Regions from separate parts of the Homo sapiens genome. Here region 2 is linked to region 1. Evidence: fine-mapped expression QTL. Tissue or cell type: lung. Region 1 holds a variant in brackets; the other region holds the start of a gene. All regions are shown on one strand. Distances are between the middles of the regions.

Evidence for each region. PIP is the estimated chance that this variant, and not a neighbour inherited with it, causes the effect.
Region 2: it holds the start of LTK, and the variant in region 1 is fine-mapped to the expression of LTK in lung (TOPMed, PIP above 0.99). The same link has a PIP of 0.9 or more in left ventricle, subcutaneous fat and thyroid.

The regions. Positions count from the first base shown.
Region 1 is chr15:41,551,425-41,559,526 of GRCh38, reverse strand. TYRO3 (TYRO3 protein tyrosine kinase) reads right to left here and starts at 315. Exons shown (of 19, transcript NM_006293.4): 1 at 146-315. The coding sequence starts at 269. It also overlaps the pseudogene ELOCP2. RefSeq lists silencers at 207-376, 387-526, 465-631, 577-666, 6,896-6,997 and an enhancer at 395-896. The variant A/C (reference allele first, on the strand shown) is at 4,549.
Region 2 is chr15:41,510,070-41,518,171 of GRCh38, reverse strand. LTK (leukocyte receptor tyrosine kinase) reads left to right here and starts at 4,345. Exons shown (of 20, transcript NM_002344.6): 1 at 4,345-4,505; 2 at 5,052-5,195; 3 at 5,294-5,465; 4 at 5,907-6,057; 5 at 6,209-6,355; 6 at 6,594-6,750; 7 at 6,826-7,008. The coding sequence starts at 4,463. RPAP1 (RNA polymerase II associated protein 1) reads left to right here. Exons shown (of 25, transcript NM_015540.4): 23 at 1-166; 24 at 315-374; 25 at 481-996. The coding sequence ends at 630. RefSeq lists a silencer at 4,980-5,059 and an enhancer at 4,766-5,513.

The DNA of each region.
Region 1 (8,102 bases):
GTGCCCTGTCCCGGCTCCGAGCCTCGGCCTTCGGCTCCGGACCCCCACCCCGACTCCAGCCCGCCAGGCCCGCCCCGGGCTCCGACCCCCGGCCGCGCCCCTCCGCAGCCCCCCGCTTCCCGCCGCCTCCCGTGCCAGCCCCTACCTGCGGCGGCGGACTCCGGGAGCAGCAGAGAAGCCAGAGCCGCCAGCAGCAGCCCGAGCCGCGGTGGCGGCGGCAGCGGCAGCGGCGGGAGCCCCGGCCGCCCCATGCTCCGCCTCAGCGCCATCGGCGGCGACGCCGCACCATGCCGGGCCCGGCCCGCGAGCGAGGAGGGAGGAGGGCGGGGAGGAGGCGGCGGGAAGGGAGCGGGAGGGAGGAGGGCTGCGGGAGGGGCTGGGGCCGCCCGTGGGGCGGTGCTGAGGCGACCGCCTCCGAGACCCGCGCCCGCCTCCGGCCGCGGTCGCCGCCGTCAGCAGCGCGGGGTCCCCGGGGCCGCTCCCGCGCCACCGCGCTCCTTCCACTGCCGTCGCCGCCGTCGCCGCCGCTGATTCATGTTCTTCTCGGAGCCGCCGCCTCCTCCCGGCCCGCCCGCAGCCCGAGCTCGCACCGCCCCCCCGCGGAGCCCCGGCGACTGGCTCGGAGCGCGAATCCCAGCCAGCGCCGCAAACCCCCGCGGCCCCGCCGGCGCCCCGCCGGCACGCCGGCCCCAGCCGCCCCCTGGCCAAACCTGAGGATCCGGCTTGGCCTCCAGGATGGGCTCCCCGGCCACGCCCCTCCTTTCCCTAAACCCGCTCCGGCATCTTTTCTAACCCAGCCCTCCAGAGCCTTCCCTCAAAACCCCGCTGTCAGCCCCCACCACACCCCAACTCTTGTTCGGACTCTGATCCCAGAATCCAGCATCCCCCTCTCAGGACTTAGAGCACCTCAACCCCTAGACACTCCCATCCATCTGGCTCCCCGAAACTGCCGTGACCCGGGGCTCCCCCAACAGGATCGGCTAGCATCCCTTCGTGCCTCCCTTTCATTGAGCCATTCACCCAAAATCCCCATATTCATGTCCTATTGCCATGCCTTTATCTCCAAGTCCCTCCCACCTGAAAAATGCCCATTTTCTCCAGCCCCAATTGCCGTATGTTTTCCAACTTGGGTCCTGAGTTTCCCAAGATCTTGGTAATCCCCAGGTTTTACCTAATATATATCCCCACCACTACACTACACAGGCCAAAGCCTAATTGCCCGTATCTTTTTGGGCTGTCATTTTTCCTGGTTGCTTCCCCTGCTTCTACCCCTTTTCCCAGGACCTGGTGTGAAAGTTGGCTGTGTCGTCACACTGTCCAGTCAAACATTAGCTATTATTAGTAGACCACCTTGCACACAGTAGGCTTTCCATAAATAAATAGGCAGATGCCTGTTAAATGAATGAATAATTGCTTCAGAGCCTGCCCCACAACCAGTAATCACGAGGGTGGCCTTGCCCACAGACATCCTGTTAGGCACATGCAGAGCTGGTTCCAAACCAAGCCTACCAAGTGTGCTCCTCCCCTTGCCCTTCCCTCCAGGGGGAAGCCCACCCCACACCCCTTCCAGAGGTCCTGGGTAGAGAGGAGGGACCAGCCACTCAGCTCCGGTTGCCGCAGGCTCACTGGATCTTTTCAGGGATTCTCCTGAGCAGCAGGGGCCTGCCTCTTCTTCCACTTGGCCCCAGCAGTGCTTGTTTATTAATTACCCTAATGATAACAACAGCAGTGCTGGCAGCAGCCTGAGACCCAGCTGGGGGCGCCCCCAGGCGGCAGCAGGAGGAGAGACTCATGAGGCACTGTCAAGACATGGATGGCAGGGGCCAGATATCTCTGTCTCTGTTTCTTTCTTTTTTTTTTTTTAATTGGCATATTTGTTTATTTCTCAGTTTGTGAAAATGTTCTTAATTTGTTGATGTAGCAAACAAATTTCAACTTTGATTGCTATGAAAAAAACAAGATAATCTGCTTTGCAATGAACTTTATATAGTTAAACTGCATACAGGCAACATGCTATATATGAAAAAGTTACTAACTGATCTACAGGTATTACATACTGAAAAGAGTTAACAGTTTATTATAATTTATTTTATTTAACAATCTAGGAAGTTCGCAGCCATCAGCAGTTCTAGTACAATTTCAGGTGCAATTGGGAATTCAGGAATCTCGATGGAGCTGTTAGTGTAGCGAACCTTGTAGGTAAAATACATGCATACTTTCGATAGCACATGTGAAGGTATCTCTCTAAAATTGACCTCATTGGTTTCGTTCTCAGCAAACTGACCTCACAGCATAAACAAAAATTAACTTAAGACCAAAGACCTAAATTTAAAAGCCAAACCCATAAAACGCCTGGGCCACTCAACATGGCTTTTATCGTGCCTGATGTTAATGCATGTTCTCTTTTTACAATAAATTCATGGCCATCAGATGATATCAATTTGACATACGTGGCATCAGGGCCTTCACAGCCACCATAGGTTTTCTCCTCTCCATCCATTTTGTTCTTATGAAATTCTACTTTGCTTCCCCAGGAACTTTAGTAGTTTCCTGGTGAGGCGAGGACACAGAGTGTGTGGCTCACTTCCGTCTCCTCTGTCTCTGTTTCACTGAGCTCTCTGGCAATTATGTTCTTCTTCCTTCTTCCTTCTTCTTCCTTCTTTCTTCTTCTTCTTCCTCTCCCTCTCTTCCCCTTCCCCTTCCACTTCCCCTTCCCCTCCTCCTCCTCCTATTCTTCTCTGCTTCTTCCTCTTCCTCTCTTTCTTCTTCTTCTTCTTCTTTTTTTTTTTTAGATGAAGTTTCACGCTTGTCGTCCAGGCTGGAGTGCAATGGTGCGATCTTGGCTGACTGCAACCTCCACCTCATGGGTTCAAGCGATTCTCCTGCCACAGCCTCATGAGTAGCTGGGATTACAGGTGCCCACCACCACGTTCGGCTCATTTTTGTATTATTAGTACAGACAGGGTTTCACCATGTTGGCCAGGCTGGTCTCAAACTCCTGACCTTAGGTAATCCGCCCACCTCGGCATCCCAAAATACTGGGATTACAGGTGTGAGCCACTGTGCCTGGCCTCTCTGCCAATTTTCTTGAGCACTGTGGGTCAGCTTCAGGACCCTTTCCCAAAGGAAAAGTCTCGTTACTTTCCAGAATCCACAGTTTCTGAGTTTGGGCTGAGTCAGGGCAGGCAGACAATAGTCTGGGGCCGAAGGCAGAATTGCCTGGGCTGCTCTTGGGCACTTGTCACTTTTCCAAGCCCTCTCTCCCGCCTTTTCTCTGAGGGGGACTTCAAGTTTCCAGTGAAGGGGAGCCTCCTCCTCTTGATTCCAGCTGACATTAGTAAGATTCATTCTAGAGGATGTTGGACCCAGAGCCCAACCCAGCCTTTTACTTCCTTATCTCTCTTCATTCCCTCCGCACCATTTCCTGAGCTGATAGGGAATCCCACCCTAAAGGCCATCCTTTTCTACTGGTCAAAATGGGCTTCTCGGACATGTGATGGATGCCACTTACAGCCTTGACAAACTTCCCACCTCAGCCACCAGCCTGAGATACATCACTGTCACAGAGGCAGCACACTTTCTGTGTGGGACAGGGGGCCCTGAGTTCCTGCTTCCCCTACCCCTAATTCTAAATCTCTCTCAATTCATAGTATTTCTTTTTTTTTTTTTTTTTTTGAGACGGAGTCCCGCTTTGTCACCCAGGCTGGAGTGCAATGGCGTGATCTCGGCTCACTGCAACCTTCGCCTCCCAAAGTGCTGGGATTACAGGCATGAGCCACCTTGCCCAGCCGTAGTATTTCTACTTACAGGGGCAGAGAGGAGGCCGGGAGCAGTGACTCACACCTGTAATCCCAGCACTTTGGGAGGCCTAGGCAGGCGGATCATGAGGTCAGGAGTTCGATACCAGCCTGGCCAACATGGTGAAACCTCATCTCTACTAAAAATACAAAAATTAGCTGGATGTGGTGGCGGCTGCCTGTAATCCCAGCTACTTACTGAGGAGGCTGAGGCAGGAGAACCACTTGAACCTGGGAGACGGAGGTTGCAGTGAGCCGAGATTGCGCCATTGCACTCCAGCCTGGGCGACAGAGCATGACTCCATCTCAAAAAAAAAAGAAAGAAAGAAAAAAAAAGGGCAGAGAGGAGTGGGGGGTCCTGGTCTTCTGACTTTTCAGCTCCTACAGAGGTTTGACCTCCTGAGCCCTTCTAACCCATTCTCCTTGCTTATCTCCCCCACCTTTCTCTCTCTGGGCACAGTACAGGAATGTGCTTCTAAGGGTATGTGAGCAGGTGTGATTTTGTGGAAGAGACATGTAGGTGGATGAGAGGGTGTGCATTGTGATGTATGAGGGAGGGTGTGCATTTGTGCAAATTCTAAATGTGACTGATGCTTTGTGGGCGGATGGGAAGAAAGTGTGTGCGTGTGGGTGTGGAGGTGTGTGTGTGTCTGTGTGTGACTGGAGGAGGTTGGCTGCCTGTGCAAATGCATGCCTGCAAAAGCTCTTCTTCTTCCATAAATGCATTGTTTGGAAGGAAACTAATAAAATC[A/C]ACAGGAAATGTTTTTGACCTAATGCGGGAGTGGCTGTCCCAGGAGTTCCTGTCCTTAGAACAGAACCAGAAGCAGCTATACTCTATTCCAGAGGAGTAAGAAGGGGCCGCAAGGGTGGAGGAAGACTGAGTGAGAGGAAGGGCCAGCGGCAGCCCCTGATTATGGATGGGACTAGGTTGGGCACAGCATCTCACTAATCTAGTAAAATAACTCTCTGCCCACTCTCAGCCTTTTATGACCCAGAACTGTTCAAGGAGGCCAAGGATCCAGAGAAGATGAAGACAAACCTGGAGATAAAAACCATTGTCCACAGAAGCAGGGCACTCTGCTACCAACTTCCGGCACTCTGAAGAAGCAGCTGTTTCAGCTTTTTCAGAGTTAAGGCCTTCTGCCCCACCCCTAGAGTGGGGGAAACAAGAGGAAACCATGGTGAGCTGCAGGATCATGACAGTCTCACTGGTCATATAACCAAAGACCTGTTCTTTCCCAACTACTGTCTCAAGAGATAAGAGTTGCCCAGGCGTGATGGCTCCCACCTATAATCACAGCACTTTGGGAGGCTGAGGCGGGAAGATCACCTGAGGTCAGGAGTTCAAGACCGGCCTGGCCAACACGGTGAAACCCTGTCTCTACCAAAAATACAAAAATTAGCCAGATGTGGTGGCGCATGCCTGTAGTCCCAGCTACTTGGGACACTGAAGTGGGAGGATCACTTGAGCCCGGGAGGTGGAGGCTGCAGTGAGCTGAGATGGTGCCACTGCACTCCAGCCTGGGTTACAGAGCGAGATCTTGTCTCAAAAAAAAAAAAAAAAAAAAAAAAAAAAAAGAGGTGAGAGTGGGCAAGTTCCACTCAAGGGATGGGGGGATGGGGCAGGCCACAGACTATGTTCCTCACCTTAGAGAAACCTCTGGGACTGGTAGAAACATTACCTATATGTGTAATTCCACATGTGCTGGGGACTGTTGCTGTCCCTGTCAAACACCCACTGCCTGAAATTCCTAAGCCAGAAACAATGCAACTTCTTGCCCCATCAAAGATGACACAGAAATGTAAATTCCTAAGAAGACCACACTTTGACTTTCAGTCACAGGAAATATTTCAAATGATCAGATTTCCCTCCAAAAGCAGATTTAGGAAGCAGTAGAGCAATAAGGTTGCGGTTTCTGAAAGGGCAGATGGGTCCAAACATGGAAGAAAAACTTTCATCTTCAAAATTTCACCTAAAGATGGCTGTGGAAGAGTTTTGTGTGTGTATGGACACGTGTGTATGTGTGTGTGTATGTGTGTGTGCCTGTGTGTATGCGTGTGTGCGTCTGTATGTATATGTGTGTGTATGCATGTGCGTGTATGTATGTATGCTTGTGTGTGTGCCTGTATGTGCATGTGTGTTAATGCCTTGTATCTGGCTGGCTGTCTTTCTCTATTTGACCCTCTTTAACTGCAGCCTGGTCAGTGAGGGTTTTCTGGCTCTATTTTCTTATTTTATATGTGTATGTATGTATGTACATATTTATTTATTGAGACAGAGTCTCGCTCTGTTGTCCAGGCTGGAGTGCAGTGGCACGATCTCAGCTCACTGCAACCTCTGCCTCCCAGGCTCAAGCGATTCTCCTGACTCAGCCTCCTGAGTAGCTAGGATTACAGGCTCATGCCACCATGCCCAGCTAATTTTTGTATTTTTAGCAGAGACAGGGTTTCATCACGTTGGCCAGGCTGGTCTCGAACTCCTGACCTTGTGATCTGCCCACCTCGGCCTCCCAAAGTGTTGGGATTACAGGCATGAGCCACTGCACCCAGTCATATTATTTTGTATTATGGAATATTTCTTTTTCTTTTTTTTTTTTTTTTTTTAAGACTGAGTCTTGCTCTGTCACCCAGGCTGGAGTGCAGTGGTGCTATCTCAGCTCATTGCAACCTCGGCCTCCCGGTTCAAGCGATTCTTCTGCCTCAGCCTCCCGAGTAGCTGGGACTACAGGCACATGCCACCATGCCCAGCTAATTTTTGTATTTTTAGTAAAGATGGGGTTTCACCATATTGGCCAGGCTGGTCTTGAGCTCCTGACTTGTGATCCACTTGCCTCGGCCTCCCAAAGTACTGGGATTAGAGTCGTGAGTCACTGTGCCCAGCGGAATATTTCAAACATACATGCAAGTAGAGAGAACAGTATAATGAGTGAATCCCCAGTGTACCTGGCATCCTGCTTCAATGACTATCTTAGTCAATTGTATTTCATTGTCCTAGTTTGTTGTTTTGCTGGGTTTTTTTTTTCTTCAACTTTTATTCCTAACCGCTAGACAACCAGAGATTGCTAAAGTTTGTTTTTTTTTTGTTTGTTTTTTTTTTTTTTGAGACAGAGTCTTGCTTTGTCACCCAGGCTGGAGTGCAGTGGCGCTATCTCGGCTCACTGCAAGCTCCACCTCCTGGGTTCACACCATTCTCCTGCCTCAGCCTCCTGAGTAGCTGGGACTACAGGTGCCCGCCACCACGCCCGTCTAATTTTTTATATTTTTAGTAGAGACGGGGTTTCACCGTGTTAGCGAGGATGGTCTCGATCTCCTGACCTCGTGATCTGCCTGCCTCAGCCTCCCAAAGTGCTGGGATTACAGGCATGAGCCACCACTCCCAGCCGGATTGCTGAAGTTTCTAAAAGCAAATCTTAGCCATATAATTTCAGCTGTAAATATTATAATATATATCTGTAACAGGTAGACTTAAAAAAAAAAAAACTGACCTGGCCTGGCGCGGTGGCTCACACCTGTAATCCCAGCACTTTTGGAGGCTGAGGCAGGTGGATCACGAGGTCAGGAGATCGAGATCGTCCTGGCTAACACGGTGAAACCCCGTCTCTACTAAAAACACAAAAAATTAGCCGGGCGTGGTGGTGGGCACCTGTAGTCCCAGCTACTTGGGAGGCTGAGGCAGGAGAATGGCGTGAACCCGGGAGGCGGAGCTGGCACTGAGCCGAGATTGCACCACTGCACTCCAGCCTGGGCAACAGAGCGAGACCCCATCTCAAAAAAAAAAAAAACTGACCCATATATACAGATGATTACATAGAGAAAGTTATAAATATGTGTGTATACTGTAGTATATACATATATTCACTTACTCTGACAGTTGAGAAGGTCCAAAAAGCAAGACACCCCAGTAGCAATGAGCATACTTACCACGCAGATCTTAGTTTAATATTATTATTATTATTATTATTATTATTATTATTAGAGATGAGGGTCTCCCTTTGTTGACCAAGCTGATCTCAAACTCCTGGCCTCTGGCTGTCCTCCCATCTAGGCCTCCCAAAGTGTTGGGATTGCAAGTGTGAGCCACTGTGCCTGGCCCAGATCTCGGTTTCTAATACCATTCTCCAATAACAGTTATTCTCTAATAACTTCTTCAAGAGTCCTTGAAGAAATGACTGATTCTAGGATTGGGGCAGGAAATATACAAGAGGAGCTATTTCCTTACTTTCTTGTAATGCCAGAACGTAAGGAAATGCACACACGCACCCCGACAGGGTATAGTAAAAGGTCATTGGAGAGGTGAAAAAATTT
Region 2 (8,102 bases), 41 kb after region 1:
CCTGGAGTGTTACACAGTGCCTCCTGAAGACAACCTGGCCCTCCTTCAGCTCTACTTCCGGACCCTGGTTACTGGTGCGCTCCGCCCACGTTGGTGCCCCGTGCTCTATGCTGTGGCTGTGGCTCATGTCAATAGCTTCATCTTCTCTCAGGACCCACAGAGCTCAGTAAGTTACATCTCCATCTTCAGAGGAAGGAAGGGAGCTAGCAATTGAGCTGCCTCTGGGCCAGCTGGGGAAGAGGTAAGTGTCAAGCAAGGCCAGTGGTGGGTACCAGCCCTCGGCTCAGTGCCACCTCTCCCTGTTCTGCTTCTAGGATGAGGTCAAAGCTGCCCGCAGGAGTATGCTGCAGAAAACATGGCTGCTGGCAGATGAGGTAGGGTCAGGGCCATTAGGAGGGTGGGATATTAGAGGATCTTGGGGGACAGAGACCACAACAGGATCTCATTACCCACTTCATAAGTTTTCTTTCCTTTCTGCAGGGTCTCCGGCAGCACCTCCTGCACTATAAGCTTCCCAATTCCACGCTCCCAGAGGGCTTTGAGCTCTATTCTCAGTTGCCCCCTCTGCGTCAGCACTACCTCCAGAGACTGACTTCAACAGTGCTCCAAAATGGGGTATCAGAGACCTAGGATAGTTGATATAGATGGAAAGATGGGTACGTTGTCCTGTATCCAGCCTTTCAACAGATGTCTGGCCAGACGAAGAACATTGTGTCCTAATGGTAGGCAGGAGACCAAGGAGCAGAAGGCTTGCCTTCCTGGGAGCAGGTTGTTTGAGCTGTTTTAGAGCAGTGAGCCCTACCATTACATCCTGATATCTGGGGCTTCTGAAGGTCTGTACTGGGAGTGAAGAGTGGCTTAGCTATTTACCCGCTCTTTGGGGACAGGGCAAACTAAATGCATCCCTTCTTACCTAACTCCCAACCCCTGCCCTGGGCTGAGGCATATGAATGCTATAGTTGTGCATTAAAATAAATGTTTTTTATCTCCTGGAAATTTGATCTGGACTGATTTCAGCCATGTTAGTTCAGGGTTAGTATCTGGGGGTGGGTTATCCCAGGTGAGGAGCAGGACTGCTGTGAGAGAGATGGGGAAGAATCATAAGTGGGAGGTAAAAACTTTGTCCACATCTGGAGACAACAAGAATGTGGGGCCTGCCAGGCACAGTGGTACACACCTGTAGTCCCAACTACTTGGGAGGCTGAGGCAGGATGATCACTTGATTCCAGGAATTCAATTCCAGCCTAGCCAACATAGTGAGACCCCATGTCTGTCTGTCTGTCGGTCGGTCGGTCTGTCTATCTATCTATCTATCTATCTATCTATCTATCTATCTATCTATTTCTGAGACAGGGTCTTGCTCTGTTGCCCAGGCTGGAGTGCAGTGGCGTGATCATAGCTCACTGCAGCCTCGACCTCCTGGGCTCAAGCCATTCTCCCACCTCAGCCTCCTGAGTGGCTGGGACCACAGGCAAGTGCCACCACGCCTGGCTAATTTTTTGTATTTGTAGAGACGGAGTTTCACCATGTTGCCCAGGTTGGTCTTGAATTCCTGAGCTCAAGCAATCCACCCACCTCAGACTCCCAAAGTGCTAAGATTACAGGCATGAGCCGCTACACTTGGCCTATTTTGGTAGTTTCTACATTGTTCTTTGGTCTGAATTCTAAACTTTAGGCTTTCTTAGACTGTCTTTTGCTGTGTGGATTACTTATTGTGTTTGCAAGTAACCAGAGTCAGAGCAGTGTGCCAAGGCCTAGCCCTGTCAGTAGGTAGAGAGAACCCAGTCTTCATAAATGGAGCTGCTGAACACAGAATTATCCAATAGGTTTTTTTGGGTTTTTTTTTTTTTTTTTTTGACACGAAGTCTTGCTCTGTTGCCCAGGCTGGAGTGCAGTGGGGCAATCTCAGCTCACCACAACCTCCCCCTCCCTAGTTCAAGCCATTCTCCTGCCTCAGCCTCCCAAGTAGCTGGGATTACAGGCGCGTGCCACCACGCCTGGCTAATTTTTGTATTTTTAGTAGAGATGGGGTTTTGCCATGTTGGCCAGGCTGGTCTTGAACTCGAACTCCTGACCTCATGATCCGCCCGCCTCAGCCTTCAAAAGTGCTGGTATTACAGGCATGAGCCACTGGGCCCAGCCTTTTTTTCTTTTTTTTTTTTGAGACAGAGTCTTACTCTGTAGCCCAAGCCAGAGTGTAGTGGCATGATCTTGGCTCACTGCAACCTCCGTTTCTGAGGCTCAAGTGATTCTCATGCCTCAGCCTCCCGAGTAGCAGGGGCTACAGGCATGCACCACCACACCGGGCTAGTTTTTTGTATTTTTATTAGAAGCGGTGTTTTGCCATGTTGCCCAGGGTGGTCTCAGACTCCTAAGCTCAGGCAATCCGCCCACCTCAGCCTCCTAAAGTGCTGGGATTATAAGTGTGAGCCACAGCATGTGGCCCCAATAGGTTTTATTAAGCAACTACTGTATCAGCAAATACCAATGATTCTCAAACTTTGTGACAAAAATCATCTGGAGGATATTTTAAAACAGATCACTGGGTCCTACCACCAGAAGCTGCTGATTCAGTACATCTGGGGTGAAACCCAAGAATCTGCATTTCTAACAAGTTCCCAGGTAATACTGATGCTGATGTTCAGAACAAACCACACAACCACAATTTGAAGAGCAGTGGCTTAAAGAGACTTTGCAAGGTAAATTCTGTGATCTCATAGTGTGATATCTAGTGTTAAGTAGGGCATAGAGACCAGGGTTTTTTTGTTTTTTGTTTTTTTTGAGATGGAGTCTCACTCTGTCACCCAGGCTGGAGTGTAGTGGTGCAATCTCGGCTCACTGCAACCTCTGCCTTCCAGGTTCAAGCAATTCTCTGCCTCAGCCTCCCAAGTAGCTGGGATTACAGGCACCTGCCACCACGCACGGCTAATTTTTGTATTTTTAGTAGAGACGGGGTTTCACCATCTTAGCCAGGCTGGTCTTGAACTCCTGACCTTGTGATCCACCCCACCCCCACCGTCCCCTTGGCCTCCCAAAGTGCTGGGATTACAGGTGTAAGCCACCACGCCTGGCTGAGACCAGACTTTTTACAAAATCACTGTTCTGTTTACACCTTGAATTATACTCAGACTTTACCAAGTAGCTAACTACTATAACTTCTCTTTTGAAGTATTTTGTATTAAACATAGGTCTCAGACTTTCAAGTTAGGATTTTTTTTTTTTTTTTTTTTTTGAGATGGGGCTTTGCTCTTGTTGCCCAGGCTGGAGTGCAATGGTGCGATCTCGTCTCTGCAACCTCTGCCTCCCAGGTTCAAGCCATTCTCCTGCCTCAGCCTCCAGAGTAGCTGGGATTACAGGCGTGCGCTACCACGTGTGTCTGATTTTGTATTTTTAGTAGAGACGGGATTTTGCCATGATGGTCTAGCTAGTCTCGAACTCCTGACCTCAGGTGATCTGCCCGCCTCAGCCTCCCAAAGTGCTAGGATTACAGGCATGAACCACCGCACCCGGCAAATGATCATTTAAGCAAATGATCGAAGACTCAAGACACAAAACTACCTGAAGGGAGTGGCTCCCACATTTGTAGGGTACCTTACAGAGCAATTTCCCTTCATATGATTTTGCAGGTGGTGGGGAAACTCTCAGGGCAGTTGTGGCCTGTGCTACATCACCCATTGACCAGAGGTGCCAGTACTAGTGCTCAAGATCAATCGATCGATCGGTCTACCTACCTATCATCTATTGACCTTCAGTGCTACTAAAAACACTCGGATCTTCTAACGTCTGGTCCAGTCTTTCACCCCATCACAGTGAGAGGCTGTGCACAGGGGTAACACAGGCAACGGAATTATATGAGGCAAACACAGAGATCCAGGTTTCTGGGAGTAGCAATGAGGTTCAGCCTTGCAGTCACAAAGGCACCACTAAAAGGCACAAGTAATGGCAGGTAATGAGGCCTTACTTGGAGCAGTTTAGAGTACTTCCCACGTGTGGTGACGCATGCCACACACTCACCACCACCACCACTGCCACAAATGAAGTGCACACTCCACTGCTCCTGTCCTCAGGAACCTGGAAGCCCCCACCTGGTGTCCGAGGTGTGGCTCCCACTTTAAGCGTGGGGCACCTCCTCTCCGGCCTCAAACCTACCGGAGCTCCCAGCAGGCTGCGGCACATCTGACGGCTGGAAACTAGAACCCCTGGGTGGGGACTCCTTAAGGCTCCTCCCGGAAGCGTAGGGACCTCGCTGCCCACACGCCCCTCCCTTTCCTCCTCTGGCGTCCTGGGGTCTGAGGTGGGCGTGGCCAGACCAGCTTTAGGTCCGGGGAGTGTCTCGCCAGCGGCAGCACACCCCTGTAAGTGGTGGCCAGGGCTGCCGTGGCAAAATGAGCTGTCAACTTTAGGTTGACAGGGGTGTGGCCGCGACCGCAAGGGCTTTTGTTGCCGGGTGGACCCAACAGGGATGGGCTGCTGGGGACAGCTGCTGGTGTGGTTCGGAGCCGCGGGTAAGTGCTATCTGGCGGTCAGGGGACCGTCCAGCCTGAGGCACTTTCCTAGGCTTGGGGGTGGCCGGTCAACAGGCCAGGTGTCAGTGGTTCCTCCAGAGGCCTCGAACTCTCACAGCCAAATTTCTCCGGTCCGTGCTTCTGGAGTGCGGGCCGAGAAGCGCCAAGTGCGTGCGAATCCCAGAGTCTGGATCACGCAGCTTGGGAAGGAGGAACATTCTTTGGGGTCTCAGCACCGCCTTGGGGCGGGGCCACCAATCTAAGTTGAGGAAAGCATTGGGGAGGCTGCAGGACCAAATTCATTGCGGCCCCTAAGTTATTCACTGGGAAAGGCGCTCGAGGAGAGAAACTGGCAGACCTATCAGCGCGCACCCGCGGGGCTTCTGCGACCGGAGTCGGGTAGTGGCTTCCAGGCTGAGAGCGCGGCTGGGCCGGGTGACGGGTGTGGCCGCGACCGCAAGGGCAGCTGTTGCGGGGTTCTCTCTTTCTTTCATATCCTATTTCCACCCGCCTTAACGTCCTGCGCCTTCTCCCAACACCTTTCAGGCGCCATTCTCTGCTCTAGCCCGGGGTCCCAGGAGACTTTTCTGCGGTCCTCGCCCCTGCCGCTGGCAAGTCCCAGCCCCCGGGACCCGAAAGTCAGCGCCCCGCCTAGTATCTTGGAGCCAGCCTCCCCGCTGAATTCTCCGGGTGAGCTTTAGACGCCTCCTTCCTCTTTCGCTCACCATACCAGACCCCTCTGGCCCAGCCAGGGGCTCGACGACCCTTGCCTCGCTCCTTGCTCTCAGGCACCGAGGGGTCTTGGCTGTTTTCTACCTGCGGGGCCAGCGGCCGGCATGGGCCCACACAGACACAATGTGACGGGGCGTACGCGGGGACCAGCGTGGTGGTGACCGTGGGGGCCGCCGGGCAGCTGAGAGGCGTGCAGCTGTGGCGCGTGCCGGGCCCTGGCCAGTATCTGTAAGTGCACGGCGGAGGTAGGGTGGACAGTGACCTGCTAGTTGGAGGTTTCACCCTCAGGGTAACGAAGTCCACGTGCGCACCGACTTGCGTCTTGGACTATTCCGCGGGGAGGTCCACCTTGAGTGCCCTTCAAGGTGGCAGTAGTCGCCACCGAGTTAGCCCTTACCCGGAACCTCTTACACCGAGCGGAAGGCCCCCAACCAGGGCGGCGCCAAGGGGTGCTTGAGCCTCCCCACATTTCCACGAACCCTCCTGAAATAAGTGTAATATCTGATTTTTCGGTGTGCAAACCTACCCTTCCCATCCCGTCAGAGTCGATTGCAGCCTCCAAGTCCCTCAGATAAAAAATAATTCTGGAGCCTCCTCTGTCGCCAACTTCTGCCCGGAGCGGCCGGCCTGAGCACCGAAGGCCGGGGACTCACCGTCCGTTCCCCGCAGGATCTCAGCCTACGGAGCCGCGGGCGGCAAAGGCGCCAAGAACCACCTGTCGCGGGCGCATGGCGTCTTCGTCTCAGCAATCTTCTCCCTCGGTCTCGGGGAGTCGCTGTACATCCTGGTGGGGCAGCAGGGAGAGGACGCCTGTCCCGGAGTGAGCGCAGCCAGTGGGGATGGGGCGGCGCCGGCGCCGGGGGCGAGGGCTGCCTGGGGGCCGGGGGAGCGTGCTTTCCTCGGTGCCGGGTCACCAGCACAGCGAGGGGAGGCTCCCGGGCCCCGCCGATTCCCTCCCCCGCTGCCCGCAGGGTAGCCCGGAGAGCCAGCTCGTCTGCCTCGGGGAGTCTCGAGCCGTTGAAGAGCACGCGGCGATGGATGGGAGCGAAGGGGTCCCGGGGTCGCGGCGCTGGGCGGGAGGTGGCGGGGGTGGCGGGGGCGCCACCTACGTTTTCCGGGTACGTGCTCCCTTCGGCGCTCAGCGTTGGGGTCCCAATCCTCTCCCCAGGGGCGCTCACGCACCGGCTCTCCGTCCGTCCCTTGGGGTCCCCCTATCCCTGCGCTGGGCTGGGCTGGCCTGGGCTGGGCTGGGGGCCCCTGCCCTTATCCAGGCCCCCTGGGCGGGAGCCCTCTCCCAGTGGCAGTGCCCCTGGACAGCTGGAGGGCGCTTCCTGGAACACGCCGCTGGCCCCACAGGTGCGCGCTGGCGAGCTGGAACCGTTGCTGGTGGCGGCCGGAGGCGGCGGTCGGGCCTACCTGAGGCCGCGGGACCGAGGCCGGACTCAGGCCTCCCCCGAGAAACTGGAGAACCGCTCGGAGGCGCCCGGGAGCGGCGGGAGAGGCGGGGCGGCAGGTGAGGGCGCGGGCCGCGGGGAGAGGCGGGCGTGCTCCCCGTGTGGCTGCCAACCTTCCTGCTGTCGCTCTGCAGGTGGTGGGGGCGGCTGGACGTCGCGGGCTCCCTCTCCGCAGGCCGGCCGCTCACTGCAGGAGGGGGCGGAGGGCGGCCAGGGCTGCTCCGAGGCTTGGGCGACCCTTGGCTGGGCCGCGGCCGGCGGCTTCGGGGGCGGCGGCGGGGCCTGCACTGCGGGCGGAGGCGGCGGCGGCTACAGGGGTAGGTGCACCGTTGGAGAGGGCAGCTGAGCAGGCCCGAGGGTGAGGTGATGTTAGAACCTAAGTACAGGCCGGAGCCCTCGGGAGGATAGGTGTGGGAGAGGCATTAAGCCCTGCTCAGCAGCTCCAAACAAAAAGCAGGAGCTCTTAGAAAAGGAGGTCAAATACACTGCAAATCAGCATGCAGACAGGACTCCCTAGATTTCCGTTTAATCCAGGATCTTTCCCATCACAGCAGGTCCCTGCCTTGTTCTGCAGCAGTCTTCAGAACTTAGAGCTGGCCGAGTGAGCAAGCTGAGCAAAGGGGCAGAAAGGCAGGATTGGGTTAAGTCAGTGGTTCTCAAAGTGTGGTCCAGGAACAGGTAATATCCCCACAACCTAAGTTGTTCGAAATGCACATTATCAGCTGGGCCTGGTGGCTCACGCCTGTAATTCTAGCACTCTGGGAGGCCAAGGCAGGTGGATCACCTGAGGTCACCAGTTCGAGACCAGTCTGGCCAACCTGTGAAACCCTGTCTGTACTAAAAATACAAAAATTAGCCGGGCGTGGTGGCGGGAGCCTGTAATCCCAGCTACTCTGGAGGCTGAGGCAGGAGAATTGCTTGAACCTGGGAGGCGGAGGTTGCAGTGAGCCGAGATCACTCCATTGCACTTCAGCCTGGGCGACAAGAGGGAAATTCTGTCTCAAAGATTAAAAAAAAAACAATGGAAATTATCCTGGGAGTTGGGGGAAGGTTGGGGAGATGCTGGTCAAAACAATGCAAAATGGCAGTTAAATAGGAGGAATACCTTCCAGAATCTACTGTACTACATGGTGACTGTAGTTAATGACGATGTATTCTTGAAAATCGCTAAGAGAGGCGGGGCGCGGTGGCTCACGCCTGTAATCTCAACACTTTGGGCGGCGGAGGCGGGTGGATCTTGAGGTCAGGAGTTTGAGGCCAGCCTGGCCAATATGGTGAAACCCCCATCTGTACTAAAAATACAAAAATTAGCCGGGCGTGGTGGCATATGCCTGTAGTCCCAGCTACTCGGGAAGCTGAGACAGGAAAATCGCTTGAACCCGGGAGGCGGAGGTTGCAGTGAGCCAAGATC